Regions from separate parts of the Homo sapiens genome. Here regions 1 and 2 are each linked to region 3. The links come from fine-mapping of genetic effects on gene expression. A gene starts in region 3. Each other region holds a variant in brackets. All regions are shown on one strand. Distances are between the middles of the regions.

The links.
Region 1: its variant is fine-mapped to the expression of KCNN4 in whole blood (INTERVAL, PIP 0.93).
Region 2: its variant is fine-mapped to the expression of KCNN4 in whole blood (INTERVAL, PIP above 0.99).

What each region holds. Positions count from the first base shown.
Region 1 is chr19:43,657,994-43,666,174 of GRCh38, forward strand. It overlaps PLAUR (plasminogen activator, urokinase receptor), which reads right to left. Exons shown (of 7, transcript NM_002659.4): 3 at 7,323-7,466. It also overlaps the pseudogene RN7SL368P. Among named protein-coding and RNA genes, the nearest start is that of PLAUR, 8.1 kb to the right of the region's middle. The variant C/T (reference allele first, on the strand shown) is at 3,779.
Region 2 is chr19:44,046,756-44,054,936 of GRCh38, forward strand. It overlaps ZNF223 (zinc finger protein 223), which reads left to right and starts at 5,281. Exons shown (of 5, transcript NM_013361.6): 1 at 5,281-5,440. RefSeq lists enhancers at 4,947-5,448, 5,268-5,507 and a silencer at 5,168-5,227. The variant G/A (reference allele first, on the strand shown) is at 4,602.
Region 3 is chr19:43,775,960-43,784,125 of GRCh38, forward strand. It overlaps KCNN4 (potassium calcium-activated channel subfamily N member 4), which reads right to left and starts at 5,014. Exons shown (of 9, transcript NM_002250.3): 1 at 4,744-5,014; 2 at 582-677. The coding sequence starts at 4,902. RefSeq lists enhancers at 1,846-2,346, 3,402-3,901, 4,260-4,389, 6,753-6,802, 6,943-7,112, silencers at 2,593-2,642, 4,996-5,265 and a cis regulatory region at 6,780-7,246.

The DNA.
Region 1 (8,181 bases), 120 kb before region 3:
GGAGTTTGAGACTAGTCTGGGCAACATAGCAAGACTCTGTCTTTAAATTAAAAAAAAAAAAGAAGAAGAAAAGAATAAGGATGCCCTATGTAGTCAACTGGATATTATGGAAATGATGGTGTATGCCTTCTGTGGCTAGATCATAGAACACATGCCTGGCTCTCTCACTTGGATCACTTTTTCTGGGGCAAGCAGCAGCCATGTTGTGAGGACACTCAAGTAGCACCATGGGAAAGTTCACGTGGCAGAACTGAGGCCTGTGCCAAAGCCATGGGAGGGGAGCATTCATGTGAGTGAAGCTACCTTAGGAGCCTTCAGATGACTGCAGCCCCAGCTGACATCTCGACTGCAGGCTCATGAAGGATCCTGAGCCAGAACCACCTAGCTAAGCCACTCCAGGGTTTTTGACCTTCAGAAACTTTGTGAAATAACACATGCTTATTTTATTGCTGCAATCTGTAATGCAGCAATAGATAATAGATAAGCAATAGATAATACACTACCTAATTGTCCCAGGGATCAAAGACTCACTTGACTGATTCCTGATCACTTCGCCTTTTGCACGAACCTTGTGGTGTTGGCCAACTGGATCCGTTACTTTTCCCTGGAAACACCAGAGTCATTCCTCTACCCAGCCCTTGGCTCACACCATTTCCCATGCTTGGCATGCCCTCCCCGTCCTGACCCAAGACACATCTAAGCTGAGTCCAGGCCAAGTCTTAAAAAAGTGAGAGGACCATGTCAGCCAAGGTTCTCAACTGGCAGGCCGCTAGCTGTAATTAGGCGAATCATTTACATCCAAAGCCCAATCGTCCCCCTCAAAGAAAAATAACTACAAGGCCACCCACGTCTTCTCACACAAACTTCCATGAAAATGAAAACACAAATTCTCACCATTGCCAACATAGCTGTTCATACCTAGAACACCTTTTCCTTGAGCCCTACTTTCTCTAACTCCTATTCATTCTTCAGCTGTCATCTTCAATTTCACCTCCTCTAGGAAGCCCTCCCTGACCCATCAGCCTGGAACGGGTACCTGCTCTGAGCTCCCACTGCCCCTTGAATTCCCCATTTCTAGTTCTGCCCACTCTGGGTGGTCACTCATGGGTCTCTGGTGTGAACTCTTGTAAATGCCAATGATCCTTAGGGCTATTTTCCTTTTTCTTTTCTTTTCTTTTTTTTTTTTTTTGAGATAGGGTCTTGCTCTGTCCCAAGGCTGGAGTGCAGTGGCTCACTGCCACCTCGACCTCCCTGAGCTCAGGTGATTCTCCCATCTCAGCCTACTGAGTAGCTGAGACTACAGGCATGTGCCAGTTCACCTGGCTGATTCCTGTATTTTTGTAGAGACAAGGTCTTGCTATGTTACCCAGGCTAGTCTCGAACTCCTGGACTCAAATGATCCTGCCGCTTCGGCCTCCTAAAGTGCTGGGATTACAGACGTGAGTACCGCACCTGGCCAGGGCTCTGTTTTAAGCCCTTTTTATCTCTCACAGTATAGACTCTCTCATGGGGTAAATATTGACATGACTTCATTTCCATCTATCTGCTCATCACTCACAAATCTCTCTCTAGTCTAGACTTCTCTCTGAGCTCCAGACACGCAACTGTCTCTTCGAGGCCCCATGGCTATACCTCAAACACCTGTCCTAAACAAAACTCCCCATCTTCTCCCACAACTGCTCTTTTTCTTGAAGTCCACGCGTCCAAGGCGGCCCCATCCAGTCCCCGGGGCAGAAACCTGGCAGACCCCCTTATCTTCCACATCTGTGCATCAACCGACATGCTTCTACTGTTCTGTCTTCTAGCTCCTTAATCCTTTTGCTCTGCTGTTTCTGACCTCTATCAAGCATAACTGCCGAGTTCTTCATTTGAGTCACTGTTCTATATTTTCTGTTGGACTCTTTTAAAAAATGGATTCCAGGTGCTAAAACATATCCTTTCTTCTGTTTTCCTGAATATATCGATTGTAGCAATTTTCATGTTTCCTGTCCTATAATCCAATATCTGAGTTGCTACAATTCTGTTTCTACAGTTGGATTTTTCTCTTGGTTTCTGGTCAATTGGTCCCTTTTATTTTCTTCAGGATACCTTGTAAGGTTTTTTGTTACTGTTTTTTATTTTTTGTTTTTTGTTTTGTTTTGTTTTGAGACAGAGTCTTGCGTTTTGTTTTGTTTTGTTTTGTTTTGTTTTGAGACAGAGTCTTGCCCTCTCGCTCAGGCTGGAGTGCAATGGTGTGATCTCGGCTCACTGCAACCTCCACCTCCCTGGTTCAAGCAATTCTCCTGCCTCAGTCTCCCAAGTAGCTGGTATTACAGGTGTGTGCCACCATACCCGGCTAATTTTTTTTTTTTTTGTATCTTTAGTAGAGAAGGGGTTTCACCATGTTGGCCAGTGTGGTCATGAACTCCTGACCTTGTAATCCTCCCACCTCGGCCTCCCAAAGTGCTGGGATTACAGGCTTGAGCCACCATGCCCGGCCTGGTTTTTTTTTTTTTTAAAGATGGGGTCTTGCTATGTTGTCCAGGCTGGTGTGCAGTGGCTATTCATAGGCATAATCCTGCTACTGATCATCACAGGAGTTTTGACCTGCTCCATTTCTGACCTGGGCTGCTTCAACCCCTCCTTAGACAACCTGGTGGTCCCCTGCTCCTGGGAGATCACCATATTGATGCCAAACTTAGTGCAGACACCCGGTTGATATAGCACACTACAGCCCAGAACTCTCAGGCTCAAGAAATCCTTCCAAGTAGTTGGGACTACAGACGCATGCCACCATGCCTAGCTATCTTGTAAATTTTGATCAGACGCCAGACATTCTAGATAAAAATCTGTCAAGGGCCTAAACGATGTTTTCTTCTTCCACAGAGAGTCAGGTTTTCATTCCTGTCAAGGACTGGACCTAGGCTTGTTTAGGGCTGGTCTATTTCACTTTGGCCCTTACCCCTGGGGTGGTCTTAGGGGGAAAGCCTGAGATGCTTACCAAGGCCTCTTCAGCTTGGCAACCTGTGTCCCCAGCATCACATGTCTGCTGGAAGCCTTGTTCGCTTTTGTAGCTTCCCAGTTGCTATTTTTCTCTTCCAAGTTTCTTGGACTCTCACCCTGTGCATGTAGAGCTTGCCAATGACTTGAGGGAGATTTGTTTGCAGGTTGGGAACTCCCTTTTCTGTGGTCCCATCCATTCCAGGATTTTAACTCTCATCTTCCAGACATTCTGGCAGCCCCAAACTCCAACCTCCGTCTTCTCAGTCTAGCGACTCTCTTTCCGTCTGGGCTCTATTTCCCTTCCACAGCAGCAGATTGGCAAGTGCGCTCCGGGAAAAAGCCAGGTTGTCTGTGGAACCCAAATTCTACACTTCTGTTATTTCAGAGATTGTAGCGCCTCAAGTTTCTCCTTTCTTTCTTTTTTCTTTTTTTTTTTTTTGAAATGGAGTCTCGCGCTGTCGCCCAGGCTGGAGTGCAGTCGTGTGATCTTGGCTCACTGTAACCTCTACCTCCCGGGTTCAAGCAATTCTTGTGCCTCAGCCACCCAAGTAGCTGGGACCACAGGCATGTGCCACCACGCCTGGCTAACTTTTGTATTTTTAGTAGAGACGGGGTTTCGCCATGTTGCCCAGGCTGGTCTTGAACTCATGAGCTCGAGCAATTCACCTGTCTTGGCCTCCCAAAGTGCTGGGATTACAGGCATGAACCACTTTGCCCAGCCAAGTTTCTCCTTTCATTTGCTGCTCTCCAGTGACTTCCAATAATTGTTTATTATTTGTCCAGCATTTGCAACTGT[C/T]ATTGGCAGAAGGGTTGGTCTGATACAAGTGACTCCATCATGACCAGAATTGCAGGTCCCCTCCCACATCTAATCCACCACTAAGGCCTGCTTCTTAATAGCTCTTGTTCGGCTTTGGTTGAGACAGGGTTTTGCTCTGCCGCCTAGGCTGGAGTGCAGTGGCGTGATCACTGCAGCCTCCAACTCCTGGGATCAAGCAGTCCTCCTGCCTTGGCCTTCCAAAGTGCTGGGATTACAGGCGTGAGCCACTGTGCCTAGCCTGAATAGCTCTTAAATCTATCCACTTTTCTTCCTCTGCACACCTGACACCCTAGTCCTGCTGCCCTCTTCTCCACCTGGACAACCTCGCCCACCCCCAAGTTGGTTTCCCCTCATCTACTCTTGCTTCCTTTCAGTCTATCTTCTGTCCTGAGGTCAGAATAATTTGTTAAAAATATAAATGGGGGCCGGGCGCGGTGGCTCACGTCTGTAATCCCAGCACTTTGGGAGGCCGAGGTGGGTGGATCACGAGGTCAAGAGTTCGAGACCAGCCTGGCCAACATGGTGAAACCCCATCTCTACTAAAAATTCAAAAAAATTAGCCGGGCATGGTGGCGGGTGCCTGTAATCTCAGTTTCTTGGGAGGCTGAGGCAGGAGAATCACTTGAACCTAGGAGGCGGAGGTTGCAGTGAGCTGAGATCGCACCATTGCACTCCAGCCTGGGCAAAAAGAGCGAAACTCCATCTCAAAAATAAATAAATAAATAATTGCGATCATGACATTCGCTGTTTAAAATCTTCTGTGATGCCCCAGTGCTCCCAGGACAATGTCTAGAAACCCCTGTGTAACATGCCCCTGCCAAGCTTTCCAGCTCATCTCGCCCCACTGTACTGTTTCCTTTGTCCAGCCACACTGCTTTTGGCCACCTTTGTATCTGCTGCTCCCTCTGCTGGAAAACCCTTTCCACTGTTTTTTTTTTTTTTTGCAGGATCTCGCTCTGTCACCCAGGCTGGGGTACAGTGGTGCGATCATAGCTTACTGCAGCCTCCACCACCTGGGCTATAGTGATCCTCCCGCCTCAACCTCCCAAGGAGCTGGGATCACAGGCATGTACCATCACATCTGGCTAATTTTTTAATTTTTTTGTAGAGTCATGTTGCCTAGGCTGGTCTGAAACAATCCTCCCACCTGGGCCTCCCAAAGTGTTGGGATTACAGGCGTGAGCCACTGCACCCAGCCTCCATTAGCTGTTTAATAGTCTGATTCCTACTCATCCTTCAAGATCCAGCTTAGCTGTTGCTTCCCCTAGGAAACCTTCCCTGACCTGAGTCAGGTATCTCCTCTAGGGTCCCACAGCTCCTACTCTTCCCTCATCCCAGCCCTGACCCCTCTGCCTGTGTTTCCCCCTTCATAGCCCAGACAAATCTATTAGGTTGGTGCAAAAGTAATTGTGGTTTCTGCCATTGCTTTTAATGGCAAAAGCCACAATTACTTTTGCATTAACCTAATAATCAGTCACTGTCTGGTGATGGATGGGTCTGTCACCCCTACACACACACACACACACACACACACACACACACACACACACACACACACACAGGACTGTGAGTCCCATGGAGTCAGGCAGGGCACAAGGCTGTCTTGGTCCCTGCTGTGTTCCCAGCATCATGTAAGTACTGAGTGCAGTTTAACCAACTATGCAAGTTGCCACAAGCAGGGTACAATGGCATTAGAAATGGGGATGAGGCCGGGCACGGTGGCTCACGTCTGTAATCCCAGCACTTTGGGAGGCTGAGGCGGGCAGATCACCTGAGGTCAGGAGTTCAAGATCAGCTTGACCAACATGGAGAAACCTCATCTCTACTAAAAATACAAAATTAGCTGGGCGTGGTGGCGCATGCCTGTAATCCCAGCTACTTGGGAGGCTGAGGCAGAAGAATCGCTCGAGCCTAGGAGGCGGAGGTTGCAGAGAGCCGAGATCGTGGCATTGCACTCCAGCCTGGGCAAGAAGAGTGAAACTCCATCTCAAACGAACAAACAAACAAAAAAAAAAAACAAAAACAAAAGGAAACAAAAAAAAAAAGAAAGAAAAAAGAAAAGAAAAAGGGATGATATAGGTATCTCAGTTATTAGATTCCTGAATTGATAGCTGCTGCTCTAAGCTCCTGGTGGATCCCTGACCACTGCCAACTCTCTCCCCAGGACCCTTCATGTCCCTGTGACCCATCATGGAAAGGGGCAACACCAGGCCCAGCAGCGGACTCCAGGAGTTTGTCCCAGCACTGACCAATATTGTTAAATATTTTCGCTATCATCTCTGATTGAATGCACTACTTAGACCCAAGTATTGGTGCTTTCCTTAAGCACATCTCACCGAGACGGGAAGCCCACATCCTCTCGTCACTTCCTCAAAACAAACATCTGATTTGGCCCCACCAGCGGATTAGTGTTTGAGGTCAGGATGGATGAAAACCAGGCAGAATCAGGATGAATGAAGAACAAAGAAAACCCAGTGCAAACGCAGCACTCTGCTCACTGATGTCACCAACCATGACTAGACTGGCCTTACCCTATTTCCTTCCTCACCAGGTCCAGAAAGAGGAATCTCTTTCACGGATGGATCCATGCACCATGGACCCATTCCTTCCCCACCCTTCCTCTCCTGTGGGAATTTAGGAAAATTTGACCTTTTCTAAGTCTTTTTCTTAAAATGATCAGAGCCTGAAGCCATGAAATTCGACAAAGGGGCTTATGGTTGTTGCCCAGGCTGGTCTTAAACTCTTGGGCTCAAGCGGTTCTCCCGCCTTGGTCTCCCAAAGTGCTTGGATTACAGGCATGAGCCACCACACCCAGCCTATTATGGACATTTCCTCACATTTGTTTTTTCACTGCCCAAGTCAGAGACCATCTATTGCAGAGGATTCTCCCAGCCTACTGCGGCCCATTTAATCTTCCCCTCTTTCGACTTCCCTTAAGAACGTCAAGTCTTTGCTTGAATCCTGGCCCCTCAGTATCTATTGCTTGGACCATCTCCCGTCCCAATGGATTGGGCAGGACCATCTCCTGCCCAGTCAGATGGACAAACATCACTGAGACATCTCATCTATGTCTCATGCATGCGTGTGAGCTTGTTAAGGGCAGAGTTGCAAGTTATACATAACAACCATACATACAAACATGCAGGATGGGGATTGGGTTAAGGATGAAAGTAATTGTGTCGTTGGGGTGGGGATTTGGGTAGTCTGAGATAAGGATGGGGTTGATTTGGGGATGGGGTTGGAACTGTGCTTGGAACAGGGCTGGGTTTGAGTTGGGAACAGTGTTAGGGTAACATGAAGTTGGGCATAGGATTGGAGGTGAAGTTGAGTTGGGGTTGGATATGGGGTCAAGAATGAGTTGGGGATGGAGCTGAGCTAGAGATGGGTTGGGTTGGGGTTGGGACTTGGATAAGGCATGGAGTTGGGGTTCAGCTGATGTAAAGTTAAGAATAGGATTGGGATGATGATGAGGTTGAGCTGGGGATGGCTTGGGGTTGGGGATGGCAAGGGCTGCCCTACTCACCAGAGTTGCCCTGGTTGCACAAGTCTAACCCACACACAACCTCGGTAAGGCTGGTGATCTTCAAGCCAGTCCGATAGCTCAGGGTCCTGTTGGTCTTCTCTGAGTGGGTACAGCTTTTCTCCACCAGCTCCAGCTCTTCTCCTTCTGCAAGGAGGGGATCTTCATTACCCCAGAGGCTCCTCTCAGCTCAACCAGCCTCTGACACTCCTGGTCTCAAGGTCATCCACTCCCAGGGCTGATCTCTGCTAGGCCTCTTCTGTTATTTGAGTCGAACTCTGTCTTTTTCTAGAGTTAACCTTGCCTCCACCCCCACCCCAACAAGGAGCCTGCTCTATTTTATTTCAATTAATTAATTAATTAATTTTTTTTTCCGGGAGACAGGGTCTTGCTCTGTCACCCAGGCTGGAGTGGTGCAATCATAGCTCACTGGAGCCTTGACCTCCCAGGCTCAAGCAGTCCTGCTTCGGCCTCCCGAGTAGCTGGAACCACAGGCTTACATCACCACACCCTGCTAATTTTTAAATTTTTTATACAGATGGCATCTCACTATGTTGCCCAGGCTGATCTCAAACTCCTGGCCTCAAGTGATCCTCCCACCTTGGCCTCCCAAAGTGCTGGAATTACAGGTGTGAGCCACTGTGTCCCACTCCTGCTCTTGTAGTGACAGCACTACAACTGGGACTTTCTGGATCCATCTATCCCTCCCCCACACCCTCAGCTTAGTGATCTCAGTACTGAGATGCCTCAAATGTAACTTTATTTTATTTATTTATTTATTAGAAACAGGGTCTCTGTTGTCCCAGCTGGGGCAATCATAGCTCACCACAACCTCGAACTTCTGGGCTCAAGGAATCCTTCT
Region 2 (8,181 bases), 270 kb after region 3:
ATTGTAAATGTATAAATAATACTTAAAATTAAGGAGAAAAGACCAAAAACACAATAGAAGATGGGACAAGAGATTTGTACAGTTTCCAAAAAATATAATAATGGTCCTTGAAAATATGCAAAGATGAGGTGCAGCAAACCACCATGGCACATATACCTATGTAACAAACCTGCATGTTCAGCACATGTATCCCACAACTTAAAGTAAAATAAAGAATAATTATTATTATTATAATAAATGTCATAACATTTTAGAGGGGGAAAGAAAATTAGAGATTATCTTATACAACTTGGTTATTTTACAAATGACAAAGCTGTGTTTCTAATTCTTTAACTTGTGAATAAATGTGATGAATAAATGTGGAAAAAAAGGAATATAGGCCTGACTGTGACATTTACAGGGTTCAGGGCAAGAATACAAATGGAGGCCTACCTACCATATGCCTTGATATTTAAGTGTACAAAGCAAGCTAATAACATGTAAAATAAAATATGTTCTACCCTTATAAAAAAAGAAAATATGCAAAGATATTCCATGATATTTACAAAAAAAAATACAAATTAAAACTACATTTAGTTACCATTTCTTACCATTAGATTGGGAAAACTTTAAAAACATCAAAATACCACATTCTGTTAGCTAGTGTCAAGGCAAGACATTCCTCATACATTGCTTCTGGAAATGAAAAATAGTATAAAATATAAAGGCAATTTGACAATATGCAACAAAATACACTTCTATTCCCATTTTGGCCCTGAAATCCTACTTTTTGAAATGTACCCTTAACATATATCATCAACAGGGAGAAAATATATATGTATGAGTTTATGTATCATGGCATTGTTTGTAGTAATAAAATATTGGAAACCACTGAAATGCCCATGAATGGGTGCAGTATTGAATAAAGCACACAATGGAGTTTGTGGAGTTGTGAAAAGCATGTACTCTATATGAAGTGATTTTCCAGGATATATTGTTGAGTGACCATAGAAGGTTTAGATGAATGCTACCTTTTGTTTAAGTAAACAGCGAAAATAAGAAATCTACATGTTTTCTGTAAAAACTGGTAATGATAAACCAGAAAATAATGAAATTGGTTACACATGGGTATTAGGAGTCAACACTGTGGAAGTGGTGCGGTGGAAAGGAGGGGAGTGAGTGGCACTTTTCTGAGAATAACATTTTGTATAGTATAGACTTATGGGAATATGTTATTGATTGACATAATAATATAAAATCAAGAATGGAGATAAACCAGGAAACTTAAAATCAAAGAATAACAGACTAACCTAAATGCATTCAAATCAATAACACAGACTAAAGATGAAAGCAAGAAGTCATTTAAGTACCATATTAAACACAGTACAGTATTTTGAGTATATGTCCTCAGCATAAAGACAAAAAGAACTGTAATGATGTTGAACTCTAGTTAGCTGAGTTATTTTTACAATAATATGACTTAGTAATTATGAAACTACCTGATGCAATGGTTTAAATGTTTGTGGACCACTAAAATTCACATGTTTAATTCCTTACCCCCAATAAGATGGTTTTAGGAGGTAGAGCCTTTGGAGGGTGATTAGATTATGAGGGCAGAACTCTTATTAATGGGATGAGTCCCTTTGTAAAAGAGACCTGAGGAAACTTGTTCATCACTTCCACCATTTGAGGACATTGCAACAAGGTGCCACCTATGAACCAGAAAGCAGCCCCACTTCAGACATAAAATCTCCCAGTGCCTTGATTGTGAGGAATAAGTTTCTGTTGCTTATAAGCCAGCTAGCCCATGGTTTTTTGTGACTAAGAATATTGGTATTGAGAAGTGGGATTGCTGTTGTAACAAATATCTAAAAATGTGGAAGTATCTTTGTGACTGTATAATGGGTAGAGGCTGGGAGACTTCTGAAATGCATGCTAGGAAAAACCTACATTGTCATGATTGGACTGTTAAAGACAATTCTGGTTAGGGCTCAGAAGGACAGAATGAGAGCTAGAGAAAGCATCAGTCTTCTTAGAGTAAACCTATGTGGTCACGATCAGAATGTTGATAGAAATATGGACAGTAAAGGCCATTATGATGAGACCTCAGTCAGAAATGTGGAACATGTTACTGGAAACTGAAGAAAGCGGGGTTCTTGTTATAAAGGGGTAAATAATTTGGCTGAATTATATTCAGGTCCTAGTGTTTTTTGGTAGGTAGAACTTGTGAGCAATGTAATTGAATATTTAGCTGACACTATTTCTTAACAATGTGTTGAAGTTGCATCTTGAATAATCTTGACTACCTATAGTAAAATGTAGAAAGTGAGAAGTGACTGAAAGCCGGAATTACTAATTAAAAGGTAAAGAGAACTAAATACTTTTAAAATTTGCAGCTTATCTACTTTGGAAAACATGCAAAACCCTGTCCTGGAGAAAACAAGGGTGTGGCTGAACAACTGATTTATGAGATTAGTATGGATTGACCATGTTGACTCAAACCAGGACCTATTGTCCAAGACAATGGAAGAATGACCCCAGAAGTATTTCACAGATCTTGGAGGCTGCTCCTCCCATCAGAGGCCCAGAGCACAGGGACGTGGGCAACAGCAGGGACCTTTGATGCCAGGTGCCGCCTAACATCTCAGGCTCAGCTCCTTGCATACACTACCACTGAGAGTATCAATAAATTTTATCTTTTGTGAATGCAGAGTAGAGTAAGGATACAGCTGTAATTGGTATAGGAATAGCCATCACTCAATTTTCAAGGGGGCATTGAAAATTTGTTTGGCACTATGTGGTTGCTCAGTCACCTTAATTTTTGTCCAAACCAAACTGTGAAACGTCAGCCAGGTGCAGTGGCTCACACCTGTAATCCCAGCACTTTGGGAGGCCAAGGTGGGCAGATCACGAGGTCAGGAGATTGAGACCATCCTGGCTAACACAGTGAAACCCCCATCTCTACTAAAAATACAAAAAATTAGCCAGGCGTAGTGGCACATGCCTGTAGTCCCAGCTACTTGGGAGGCTGAGGCAGGAGAATCACTTGAACCCAGGAAGCAGAGGTTGCAGTGAGCCGAGATCGCGCACTGCACTCTGGCCTGGGCAAAACAGCAAGACTCTGTATCAAAAAAAAATTGTGAACAGTCTTTTTTTAATTTTTTTTTATTTTTTTTTACTTTAGGAAAATGGATACAGGACATTAGACTCTTTTTAAAAAGAAAAATATAGGTCGACAGGTCAATGTATGTTTATTTGGGAGGACAAAAAATATGGTTTATCTTCAAAAGAGAATTTTAGATGAATTGTTTCCTGATTTAGCTTTATACTATTATTAATGTCTTTCAACTAACATATGCCAGTTTTCAAATTGTTTCCTATAATGAAGATATTTTAACCAAGAAATGGAAAGGAAGAAACTCTTAATAATAAATCATGCTCCGTCACCTATAGAATCTTCTCCAGTTTTATGGCATTGAATCAGACATTGGGTGTCAGATTGATACCAATGCCAAGCTCTTCAACAGTTATACTTGCTTTAAGATACTTAGCAATTCACTAACTTCTCTGAAATTTAGCGTTTCTACATCTAAAGTAGAAATATTACTACCATGAGAATGTTAAATGTAGCTTTTCCATGAGGACACAGCTTCTCCATTGGTGGCTGGAATTTTGTTTTTCCTGTCAAACCAGTGGTACCACAGCATCTGGACTAGGGCTGTAACTGAGAACCACCATTTTTCTAAGAGACAGCTTATTTATTTCTCTCTCTTTTCTCATTCCCTTAGTTCCCCACTTCCTATGTAGCCCTTTAAAAATGCAAATATAGACTTTTACCTCCCCTTCACCAGACACTTCCTACAGGGAAAGTTCATCTAACTGTGTGCTCCAAGCCAGAACTCTCCTCCAGAATTAACAGTCAATTTACAAACTAAAGCATGCTGGCCTCTGAACTCTCACTCACCAGGAGGTTGCCTGAAGAGACAACAGTTGAAAGCGTGCCTGCTACTCTCTCCCTTCTGGTTACAACTTATTTCTGCCCATGAAAAAGCCAGCTCAACTGCCTAATAGATAAGGCACCAAGCCAGCACACAGACCCCTTCCCTCTTCCTCCCCTACCTTTTAAAAGTGCCTGCTTTCTGCTCTAAAAGCCAAGCCGTGCACTTAAAGACAACACCTGTGCTACTTCCCCTACGCTAGCTCTAGAATAAATCACTTTCTTTATACCAGATCTCCCTCTTGTTAACTGGACGTTGCAAACGGGAAGCCACTGATCTACTTTTCAGTTACAGGGGCTGATGCTTTCCTGGCTTCTCATTGCCCCTCCCAACCCATTCTACCTGGCTCATTCTTTAAACCAGTGGTCCCCAACCGTTTTAGCACCATGGACCGGTTTTGTGGAAGACAATTTTTCCACGGACTGGGGAATGGTTTCGGGATGAAACTGTTCCACCTCAGCCATTAGATTCTCATAAGGAGCGCCTGACCTAGATCCTTCGCACGCACAGTTCACAATAGGATCCGCGCTCCTATGAGAATGTAATGCTGGGCTGATCTCACAGGAGGTGGAGCTCAGGCCATAATGCTCCCTCACCTGCCGCTCACTTCCTGCTGTGCCGCCC[G/A]GTTCCTAACAGTCAGTGGACCGGTACAGGTCTGTGGCCCTGGAGTTGGATATCCTTGCTTTAAACCCTGAGCCTCCTTTCAGCCATCTGACGGCTCAACAGTCACTCTATCTAGCTCCTTGAATATTGTATCTCCTCGCTTGTTCCCTGTCCAAGAACACTCCTGTCAATCATGGGAGACATTTAGACTTCATAAATTCTTTCTATTCAATATTTTCGCTCGAGGACTCTGGGAAGGACAACTGTCAGGGTAACAGTCTGCATTCCCCACCAGGAACCTGGGGCTATGAAATTCGTTCCCCGTGGGTGTTGCGGGAAGTGTAATCGAGGAGCACCATGTAGTCGCAACACTTGAGCCTAAAGGGTGAGGTGATGGACATTTTCCTTTTGCATCTGAGGCTCTGCAGTCCAGACACCTTGCGGGATTCCTGATACTTCAGCTCAGGTAGGCGTTTCCGGAGAATTCTGGGAAGAGTAGTCCATTTTACGGGAAGTGTAGTCCACTGGCTCGTGGAACACTGGGTATTTTGGCTCTGGCAGGTGAACCGTTGAATTCTGGGAACGATAGTCCAGACACTCTGCGGAGTCCCGGGCCCTTTGGCTCAGGGGGGCGGGTCCGGGGAATTCTGGGGAGTGGAGTCCAGACACTCTGGCGCAGAGAGGACACTTCCGGTCTCCTAGTCTGAGGTTCCTGCTTTAATGACCGGGGTAGTTTGAGCCATTTCTGCGTCTTGCAGGACATTTTGAACGAACCCCCTTTGCTTGAGGCTCGCAACCACCCGATGATCGATGATCGTCTCAGGGGAAAAGAAGCCTTGGCGAAGAGCAGAGGTTTAGAGGTGCGAGGGCGGGGAGGGTGTTTATTGTTCCCGTCAGCGGAGCCTTCTGGCGTCGGGGGGCTTTGCTCGCCTCCCGGGGGGTGGGATTGGGGTGGCCTTGTGTGCCCTGCTCTGAGGGTTTCCAGGACTTTGACCTCGCTCAGTCCGCCTCCCTACGTATGCAGTGTGTACACTCTTTCTCGCAGTGTGATGTGGAATGTTAATGTCTCTGTACTTCCCATTGCTGTTCTTTAAAATGGTGCTTATAGGGTCATCCTAATAGAATTGTTTTGCGAATTGAAAGAGATAATACAAATGAAAGCCTTAAAGTTGTCCCTGTCACTTGGTGAGTGGTCTCTTGTTGCCTGATATTTTAAAACGTTTGATATCATTTCAAAGCTATAGAAAAATTGCAAAAACAGTATAAGAAATTCTCATATACCCTTTACCCAAATTTGCCAAGTGTTTACATTTTTCCTGTTTGCTTTGTTGATGACCATCAACCAAATACCACCAGGAACATACCTGTAACCAGAGACAGCTGATTGGTAGCTTTCTGCAGCAAGGAAGCCCACATACCACGGTAATTGTGGGGTGTCTTGGTAAGAGGCATTTAGGAAGGGCTGGTTATAGGGTTTCACATAACATGGTAGATAATATTGGATATTATGTTAAATAATACTGTTACCGATTACATGTCAGATAGATGTGTTAAAAGAATACTAGTATTTGTAGTGTACTTACTAGATAGTGTTGGATAGCATATTACCTAGCATCATGTTATCTAATCTGCAGTTCCATATACGAATTTGTTAAATTTTTCATTTAAAGTCCTTATGACTGTCCTCTGCCCCACCCTTCACCTATTCAAAGTCCAGTTTATGCGTTGTCTTTAGCTGTCACATTTCCATAGTTGTTCATTTGGAGTTTGATATTGAAGGGGGCCTGCCTCTCCACACCTGTGGGTGTTTCTCACAAGGTGGAAATGAGAAACTGAGAAAAGAAATAAGACACAGACACAAAGTATAGAGGAAGAAAAGTGGGCCCAGGGGACCGGCGCTCAGCAAATGAGGACCTGTACCGGCACTGGTCTCTGAGTTCCCTCAGTATTTATTGATCACTATCTCTACTATCTTGGTGAGGGGGATGTGGAAGGACTATAGGGTAATGGTGGGGAGAGGGTCAGCCGGAAAACATGTGAGCAAAGGACTCTGTCATAAATAAGTTTAAGGAAAGGAGTTGTGCCTGGATGTGCACATAGGCCAGATTTATGTGTGACTTTACACAAACATCTCAGTGCAGTAAAGACCAGTATTGCCGCCAGTATGTCTCACCTCCAGCCATAAGGCGGTTTTCTCCTATCTCAGTAAATAGAATGTACGATTGGGTTTTATACCGAGACATTCCATTCCCAGGGATGAGCAGGAGACAGATGCCTTCCTCTTACCTCAACTGCAAAGAGGCCTTCCTCTTTCACTAATCCTCCTCAGCACAGACCCCTTATGGGTGTCGGGCTGGGGGACGGTCAGGTCTTTCCCTTCCCACGAGGCCATCTCTCAGGCTGTCTCAGTGGGTGGAAACCTTGGACAATGCCCAGGCTTTCTTGGGCAGAGGTCCCTGTGGCCTTCCGCAGTGTATGGTGTCCCTGGTTAATCGAGACTGGAGAATGGCAATGACTTTTACCAAGCATACTGCCTGCAAACACATTTTTACCAAAGCACATCCTGCACAGCCCTAAATCCATTAAACCTTGAGTCAATACAACACATGTTTCTGCGAGCACAGGGTTGGGGCTAGGGTTACAGATTAACAGCATCTCAAGGCAGAAGAATTTTTCTTAGTACAGATCAAAATGGAGTTTCTCATGTCTTCCTTTTTCTACGTAGACACAGTAACAGCCTGATCTCTTTTTCTTTCCCCTACAGATATATTTCACATTTAGGTTTAGATTATACATTGTTGGTGGGGATTCCACAGGAGTGTTAAGATGCCCTTTTCTTTTTTTTTTTTTTTGTTTGAGACAGTTTTGCTCTTGTCACCCAGGCTGGGGTACAATGGTGCAATAGGATGCCCTTTTCATTGTAACATAACAAGGTCCAAGTGATGTTCGTTTGTCCCTTCATTGGTGATCTCAGCTTTGTCACTGGCCAAGAAGATGTCTTTCAGATTTTTCCACTCTTATGTTACTTTTTTTTAAATTATGAAGTTTCTTATGGGAAAATACATTATTAGTGGGCATTTTCTTGTAAAAAAGAGCTTCCATTTCTCCTCTATTGGTTCATTGATTTGTTCAACTATAAATATTCTATCAATGTGGACTCAGAATCCAGTCTTATTGATTCTAATGATATGTGCATTAACAGTTTTTTTTTTAAACTCTAGGTTTATTTTAGTTATAGCATTCACCCATTTCAGGTATACAAGTCAGTTCAGTGGTCTTTAGGAACTTTGAAGTGGGGTAATCATCATCATAATTCAGCCGAGATCACTTTCATCCCCCAGTTGGACTCCTCATGCCCATTTACTTTGAACCTCATTCTCAACTCAAATTTAGAACAACTGCTAACCTACTTTCTATTCTATTCTACTTGTCTATTCCAGACATTTCATATAAATGGAATCGTAGGGTCTGTGGGTTTTTGTGACTTGCTTCTTTCATTTACTGTAATGTTTTCAAGGTTCACGGGTGTTGTTGCATGGGTCAGTATTTCATTCCTTTACATTTCCAAATAAGATTCCATTGTATGAATATGCCACAATTT
Region 3 (8,166 bases):
CTACTAAAATACAAAAAAATTAGCTGGGCGTGGTGGCATCTGCCTGTAGTCACAGCTACTTGGGAGGCTGAGGCATGAGAATTGTTTGAACCCAGGAGGTGGAGGTTGCAGTGAGCAGAGATCGTGCCACTCCACTCTAGCCTGGGCAACAGAGCAAGACCTTGTCTCAAAAAAAAAAAAAAAAAAAAAAAAAAAAAGGAGTGGGCAGCCCTAGGACCTTAGGTTGCTTGAGGACTGGATTGGGGATGCCATGTCGGAGCACAGAGATCTGGGAAGCTGAGTGCCTGGGAGCAGAGTGGACAGAGGCCTGGGGGCGGAAGCAGGGCTGCAAGGGCACTCTCAGCATCCGTGAGTGTGCAAGGGGGGGCTGGGGACTACAGGGGAAGGCGGAGCTGGTGGGGGAGGCTCTGCCTGTCTGCTCATGGTTCATCCCATCTGGGTAGGTGAGGGTGTGGACGCAGCACCTAGGGCAGAAGAACTTCATTACTCAGATCAGGAGGAGGAGGAGGGTGGAAAGTGTGAGCTGACAGGGCGCTGAGGGGGTTGGAGGGAGCAAGGCTTAGGGGCGGGGCCTGCCCTACCTGGACCTCTTTGGCATGAAAGGCCACGATGAGGCAGAGGAGTAAGAAGGTGGAAATGCTGATCGTGCATTTAACCAGGAACAGGTAGAGCGCCCACTGTCAGGGGGGACGGAAAAAGCGGTGTGAGATCCCAGGTCTCCCTCCGCCTGGCCCTCCACCTTTCCTTCAAAACCACCATTTTTTTTTTTTGATTCCCAATTTTCCTAGCCTCCTTCCCCTGCAAATCAGTCCCTCTTGATGTGTCGGTTCTGGAGAAGTCTCAAAACCATCATCTGGGCCCAGTGCGGTGGCTCACACCTGTAATCCCAACACTCTGGGAGGCTGAGGCAGGTGGATCACCGAAGGTCGGGAGTTTGAGACCCCCTGGCCAACATGGTGAAACCCAGTCTCTACTAAAAAAACAAAAAATTAGCTGGGTGTGTAATCCCAGCTACTTGGGAGGCTGAGGAACCAGAATCTTGAACCCAGGAGGTGGAAGTTGCAGTGAGCTGAGAGATCGCGCCACTGCACTCCAGCCTGGGCAACAGAGCGAGTCTCCGTCTCGAAACAAGCAAGCAAGCAAACAAACAAACAAAAAAACACCATCATCTGGTCCCCAGGAATGCTCTCTTTCTCCCCAACAGGACAACCCTGTCCAGATGCTGGTGTCTACCCTCTTCCTCAGCTCTTCTCCCAAGACCCATACCCATGAAGGGGGACCTTGAAACTCACATTCCTTCTTATTCCTGTCCCATTTCACATCAAAAATAGTTCTTCAGGTGTGTGTGTGTGTGTGTGTGTGTGTGGGTGTGTGTGTGTGGTGTCTAGAAAAAGACATCTAGCCTCTAGAGAGTGCCCCCTCCCCTTCCCTTCCTACCCACCTGGTGTTGTCCTAGAAACCAACTTCAATCAACCCCAACCCCAGATCTGGAAGAATGTAGAAACTACCATTCAATCCTCAAAGACTGAGTCACACCCTTCTCTGCTCTCATCCGGAGGGCTGAGTCCCTGAGACCCAGCCTCAGCTCTGAGACAGCCCCCTCGGTTCTGCCCCCCTGCAGCTCCCCACTGCCACCCCTCTCTTCTGGCTCTAAGCCCAGGGCAGATCTGGCCGGAAGCACAGGGCCTCCAGAAACCACGGAGAAATTGTTCCTTTTTTTTTTTTTCCTCTCTTTGTGTGGCACAACCTTGGAGGAATCTAGAATTCTGGAGAGAGGGATTTAGAGGGGACTGGGACTGTTGGATTTCCTAAGAGGGGTTGGTCCCTGCCTGGCGGGTATTTGCAGGGGGAGGGGACCACCTGGGCGTCCTTACAAAGCATTGCACCTGTTTCTCCTAAGAGGGCTGCCAGCTCCCCTGGCTGGGCCAGCATCCCGCCTCTGAGCAGGGGAAGAGGGCCAGTTTCCTGCCCCAGGGGCCTGCTCCCCAACCCCCTATCAGAACAATAGTGCTGTTGTCACCAGCCCTCCCCCACCTTCTATGGCTCCCTGGTTCCCTGCCTCTTTCTTCAGTCTGTCTTAACTGCCCACACCACTAGACAACAAGCTCCCTCCTCACACTGCAATTTGCTTCTCTGGTGGTCCTCTCTACTTTTCCATTTCCTCTTCCCCCAAATCCCGGACCTGTCTGCACTTGGGCCTGTACTCTGTTCTCTGAATTTCCCTGTCTCTAGGGATGGTTGTTGCTGTCTTTCTATGTGTTTTGAGGGTCTTTGTTTCTATTGTCTCTTTTTTTTTTTGAGACGGAGTCTTGCTCTGTCACCCAGGCTGGAGTGCAGTGGCACGATCTTGGCTCATTGCAAGCTCCGCCTCCTGGGTTCACACCATTCTCCTGCCTCAGCCTCCTGAGTAGCTGGGACTACAGGCACACGCCGCCATGCCTGGCTAATTTTTTGTGTTTTTAGTAGAGATGGGGTTTCACTGTGTTAGCCAGGATGGTCTCGATGTCCTGACCTTGTGATCCGCCCACCTCGGCCTCCCAAAGTGCTGGGATTACAGGCGTGAGCCACCGCGCCCGGCCCTCTATTGTCTTTTCTAACGCTGTGTGTGTATCTCTCACTGGTGGATTTCTCAGTAGCTTGATAGCCCTATTTGTCTTTCTCTTTAGCTGTACTTCTCTATCTTTCTGCATTTTTGTCTCCATCTCTCTTTTTCTCTCCATGTATCTCTGTGTCTCTGTCTCTCTCTGTACCTCTCCCCATCCCTCCTCCTCCACCCCACCTGGTGCTTTTGGATATCTCTATCCAGTTCCCTTGGACTCCCTAGGGTTTTGCACCTGCCTCTCTGCCAGCCCCTCCCCCTGGGGAGCAGGTGTCTGGGTCCTTTGCAGAAATGAGCTCATTAGATTGAGATGGAGGTGGTGAGGGGCGGTGGATGTTATTAAGAGAGTCCTCAAAAGGGGACTGAGGAGCTGTGGCTCAGGCCTGTAATCCCAGCACTTTGAGGCAGGAGGATTGCCTGAGTCCAGGAGTTCAAGACCAGCCTAGGCAACAAAGCAAGGTCCCATCTCTACATAAAATAAAAAGGGTGGAGGGTGACCCTTAGGGTCATGTATTTTAACCCTCACCCCAATTTACAGATGGGGAAACTGAGGTTCAGAGGGTTGTAACAGCTTCCCCAAGGTCCCACTGATAGAGGCAGTGGCCTGGCCATGGTGGAGGGAAGGAAGAAATGAGGGGTGAGAAAGCAGAGGGGTGAAGTGGGGTAGGATGGACCCCGTCTCTTCCCATCTGCCAGGGTCACTGTGTTCCCACCTCGGCTTCTGGGTGCGGTGCTTCGGCGTGGGAGCGGCGGGCAGGCCCCGGCCATGCTTCCTGTTGGCATGGACTTCGGCGGCCCCACCCCCTCAGTGCCCGCCGCCTGCCAGAGGAAGCTGCATGCCTGACCCTCCATGTGGCTCCTGGTCACTTCAGAGCTGCCCACCACCCCCTCCAGATCCAAGTCGGAACATCAGACCCTCAGGAATCTACCCAATCTTCATATCAGTGTCCGCATCTGGCCCTACCAGCCCAGTTCCACAACCCTTCTGCCAGAGAGGTCTCCAGCCCCTCCTTTCCTGTTGAGCAAGTCTGTTCTCCCCTCAAGCCACTTATTCCAACCCTTGTCCTTGATCTGCCCCATCACTGGCCTGACCAGGGCTGGAATGTGACGGGAGCCTGCTGAGACCTGCCCTGACCCCACTTTCCCCTTTCTTCCCTACTCACCACTCATCTTCGGAGTCAGCCCCTCTTCCCCAAAAGCAATCAAAACCCCCTTCTCCTTAAGACTCAGGAATCCAGGACCCAGCCCCCTCCTCTCCTGGTACCTAGGAGTCCAGGCCACTGTAAGCCTACCTCTCCACTATTTCCCTGACTAATCAGCATGCAGATTTGGGGAGAAATTGAGCTTGTTAACAGTGGAGACTGGGTTGGGGTTGGTGGGGGGAGGCAGGTCGGGGGAGAGGTTTGTTTCCCATTTCCCATCCCCACCCCCAAGGCAGTTTTTTCTGTCCTTTGCATCTAAGGCACTGGGTAAACATTAGAGGTTAGACAAGGACCAAAGAGCTGCCGCCTACTGGAAGAACTTTGTCTTTCCTCCACTCTCCCTTCACCAAACCTGGGGCTACCTCTCCCCTTATTGGCTCTTGGGGGGCTTGAGTGTCTGATCAGCCACCCTCTGGCCTCCAGGGGTCCTGGACCTCTGGCCGTCTAATGGCAACATCTTCAAAGACTGAAACACTGAAACAAATATTCCCTTCCTTTTGCAGAGAAGGACCCCAGCAACTGTCTCCTGGGAGCACCCAGGAGTCCCAGCCAAAGCCCCTCCTCCCTCAGACCCAAGAGTCTAGGCCCCCAACCTCTCCTCCCTCAGATCCAGGAGTCCTGACCCCCAGCCCCTCCTCCCTCAGACCCAGGAGTCCAGACCCCAGCCCCTCCTCCCTCAGACCCAGGAGTCCTGACCCCCAGCCCCTCCTCCCTCAGACCCAGGAGTCCAGGCCCTCAGTCCCTCCTCCCTCAGACCCAGGAGTCCAAGTCCCCAGTCCCTCCTCCCTCAGACCCAGGAGTCCTGACCCTCAGCCCCTCCTCCCTCAGACCCAGGAGTCCTGACCCCCAGCCCCCCCTCCCTCAGACCCAAGAGTCCTGACCCCCAGCCCCTCCTCCCTCAGACCTAGGAGTCCCAGCTCCCAGCCACCATGCCCCACTCACCGAGCACCCCCCGAACCACAGCATCTCTGCATGCAGCACCATGAGTCCAATGCCAGTTCCTGCCAGCACCAGTGCCCAGCCGGCCAGAGACTTCTCCTGCTCCAGCAAGCGCTTTCGGCGTCTCAAGGCCCCCAGGCCAAGCACCAGATCCCCGCCCATGGCCCCCGGGGTCTTGGGGCTCAGCCAGCTTCCTGCCCAGGGTCCCCCACCTCGCAGCACGCACAGGGCAGCCACTGTGGCTTGCAGGTCGTCAGCCTGCTCTGCTGGCTCTGGGACTTTTGCTCTGAGGCACAGCAGAGCCCTGTGCCCTCTGGGGAGTGGTGACGGCCAGGCAGGGCGGGGAGGGGCAGGGGAGGCCCCAGGGTAGGGGGAGGCTCCCCAGCTCCCCCTTTTGAGAATAAGGAGGGGCTAGGGTGTGTCTTGGGGCAGAGCAAGAAAGAGACGTCCATCCACGTGGATAAAGACACACACAGACACACGATGGGCTTTGTCACACACAATGGTCTGTACTTTGTGACACACACCTCTACTCACCACACCCAGACACCGAAGGACACTCCACAGCCCAAGACGGAGACTAACACACCAGGGCACACAACACAACCTACACAGAGTGACTCACAACTCCCAGCAAGCTCTGAAACCCACAGCCACACCCAGACACCACACACATGGTGTGACACACACCAGCACTTAGCAAGCAGGCAGTATCCCGTGGCACACACAGCCACCCAAACACCGTCCACACACAGGCACAAATATTACACTCAAAGTTGTCACAACTTTCTCTGACACAAAGAGCCACACCCAAACACCACAAATAGGACGATGCACAACTGTGGCCACACAAACACAACATACACCAGGTGTTACACAAACACACAATATATATTAAAGTAGTGACGCCCTGATGCCACACACCACACACCGACACAAACACTGTGCAGTCCCAGTTTCCTAAACACTACACACCCTTGGAACGAAACCCAATACGTGTAGACACACAACATTTAGGGACATACCTATAGTAGCCCCCAATCACCCAGAGCTAGAGAATTGCACATACATTGTGGCGCCTGTTGACTCGAACACAAGTGCTCGCAGTGATGATTCAAAACACGCACTGATTCAGCATGCTCTGATGTGTGGTGCGATTCAAATGTATGGTCAGAGGACAAGCTGAGTGGATGCATGCAGAGACCTACAAGGTACAGCGACACACGGAGAAACCCAAGAAGCACATGCCTGAAGCAAGATGATTCTGGTATATTCTGGCCACACAGGACAACATCCAGGATGATGCCCTGGGGGAAGGGGATGGGGTTGGACCTTCATAGACCCCAGTGCCCAAATGCAACATACGGCTGGGTGCAGTGGCTCATGCCTGTAATCCCAGCAGTTTGGGAGGTTGAGGTGGGAGGATTGCTGGAGCCCAGGGGTTTGAGACCAGCCTGGGCAACATAGCAAGATCCTATCTCTAAAACAAGCAAAAACAAAAAAACAAACGCAACATACACCATCACCTCTGAGCCATGAGCCACACCCAAACATGACATACAATACCTCCACACAACCCAACACGTTATATTCCAACATGCGTGGCCACACAACAACATACGCGGAGTAATACACCAGCACACAGTAACGCAAAACACATAAACACAATGTTTTCCAACACACCCAACCTTCCACAAACGACCACATGTCCCATAAAACACCAGATGTCACCACTCACTGATACTACTGACACTGAGGTCTACCGCCACCCACACAACACCAGCATCGGGGGAGGGGGGTGTATCCTCTGACACAACATAACACACAGCTACACAAACACAAGACACTTGGGGTGGTTGGCACTCAGGGTGGGTGCTGGGGGCTGAGAAGGAAGAGGCCCCCAACAGGGACATGGACCCTGACGTGAGATACAGCAAATGCCAGTGTGGAATGTGCACGGTGACTCTCAGAGCAACACACAACATAGGACATCTCCATGTGTCGCAGCACGAGCCACTCATGGATCTGTACACCATACGCTCCGACACAGATCAAACCCTCCTGTGGAGACACACAGGCATGCACTGACCTGGTGACGCACATCACCTCCCAGCATCATGCACTGAACTGGTGACACTGCCCTTGGCCTCATGCACACCCCTCTGCAAGGAACCTGCGGACACAACCCTCCCCCTCCTTGTGTCCTAGGTCGTGTGGGACCCTGGACCCACCAGCCCCAGGGAAGCGAGACACGCACAGACATGTCTGACTGCACACCAAGGCAGCCCACACAAACACACCCAGAGACACCAAACCATACACATGGACACGCCCAGTGGCAAAAACACAACCCTTGCGGGGGCTCCGCCCCTCGGCACACACAATTACCCACTCGGCGAGACTTGGCGGGAGAGGGCTGGAGACACACCCGGGCGCGCCCAGACACCACACATGCGTCCACTTGGGGAAAGTGCAGCCGCCGGGCACTCCTGAGCCTGCAGCCTGGGCACCCCTGCCCACTGGCCGCCCGGCTCGCTGCGTCTCTCTCCTCCCTCTCCGGCTCTTTCTCTGGTTCTTTGGGACTTGCTTCCTGTCTCAGTCTCTCCTGATCTGGAAACCTCCGCGTTTGTCTTTTTTTTTTTTTTTTTTTTTTTTGAGATAGAGTCTTGCTCTGTCTCCCATGGCTGGAGTGCAGTGGCACGATCTCGGCTCACTGCAACCTCCACCTCCCAGGTTCAAGCAATTCTCCTACCTCAACCTCCCGAGTAGCTGATATTACAGGTGTGCACCACCACACCCAGCTAATTTTCGTATTTTTAGTAGAGACGAGGTTTCACCATGTTGGCCAGGCTGGTCGTGAACTTCTGACCTCAGGTGATCCACCCGCCTCGGCCTCCCAAAGTTCTGGGATTACAGGCGTAAGCCACCGTGCCTGGCCAGGTTTGTCTTTATCTCTGTCTCTGTTCTTCTCTCCTGGTACCTTTGTCTCTCTCTGTCTCTCTTCACTCTGTCTCTCTGTCTCTGCCTCTCTTAGCCTCTCTGTGTCTCTCTCATCGCTCTGTCCCTTTCTCCATCTTCGTGTCCCTCTCTGCTCCTCTGTTTCCTTCTTTCCCCGTCACTGTCTCTCTGTCATGTCTCTCTCTGTGTTCATCATTGCCTGTGTCTCTGTCATCGTGTCTCACTCTGTCTCCATCTCTCCGTCTCTAGGGCCCTCTGTTTTTGTCTGTCTCTTGCTGAATCGGTGTTTCTCTCCGTCTCTGTTTCACTCTCTCCCTGCCTCCTGGTCTCCTCTTGGGTCTCTCTCTCTCTCTCCGGGCCTCTCTATGCTTGTCTCTGCCTCAGTTTCTCTCTGCTGTTCACTGGCACATCTACGGACAGCCTGGTTCCTTCCGGTTCTACCCCAGTCCCACTCAGGGGTTGAGGGCC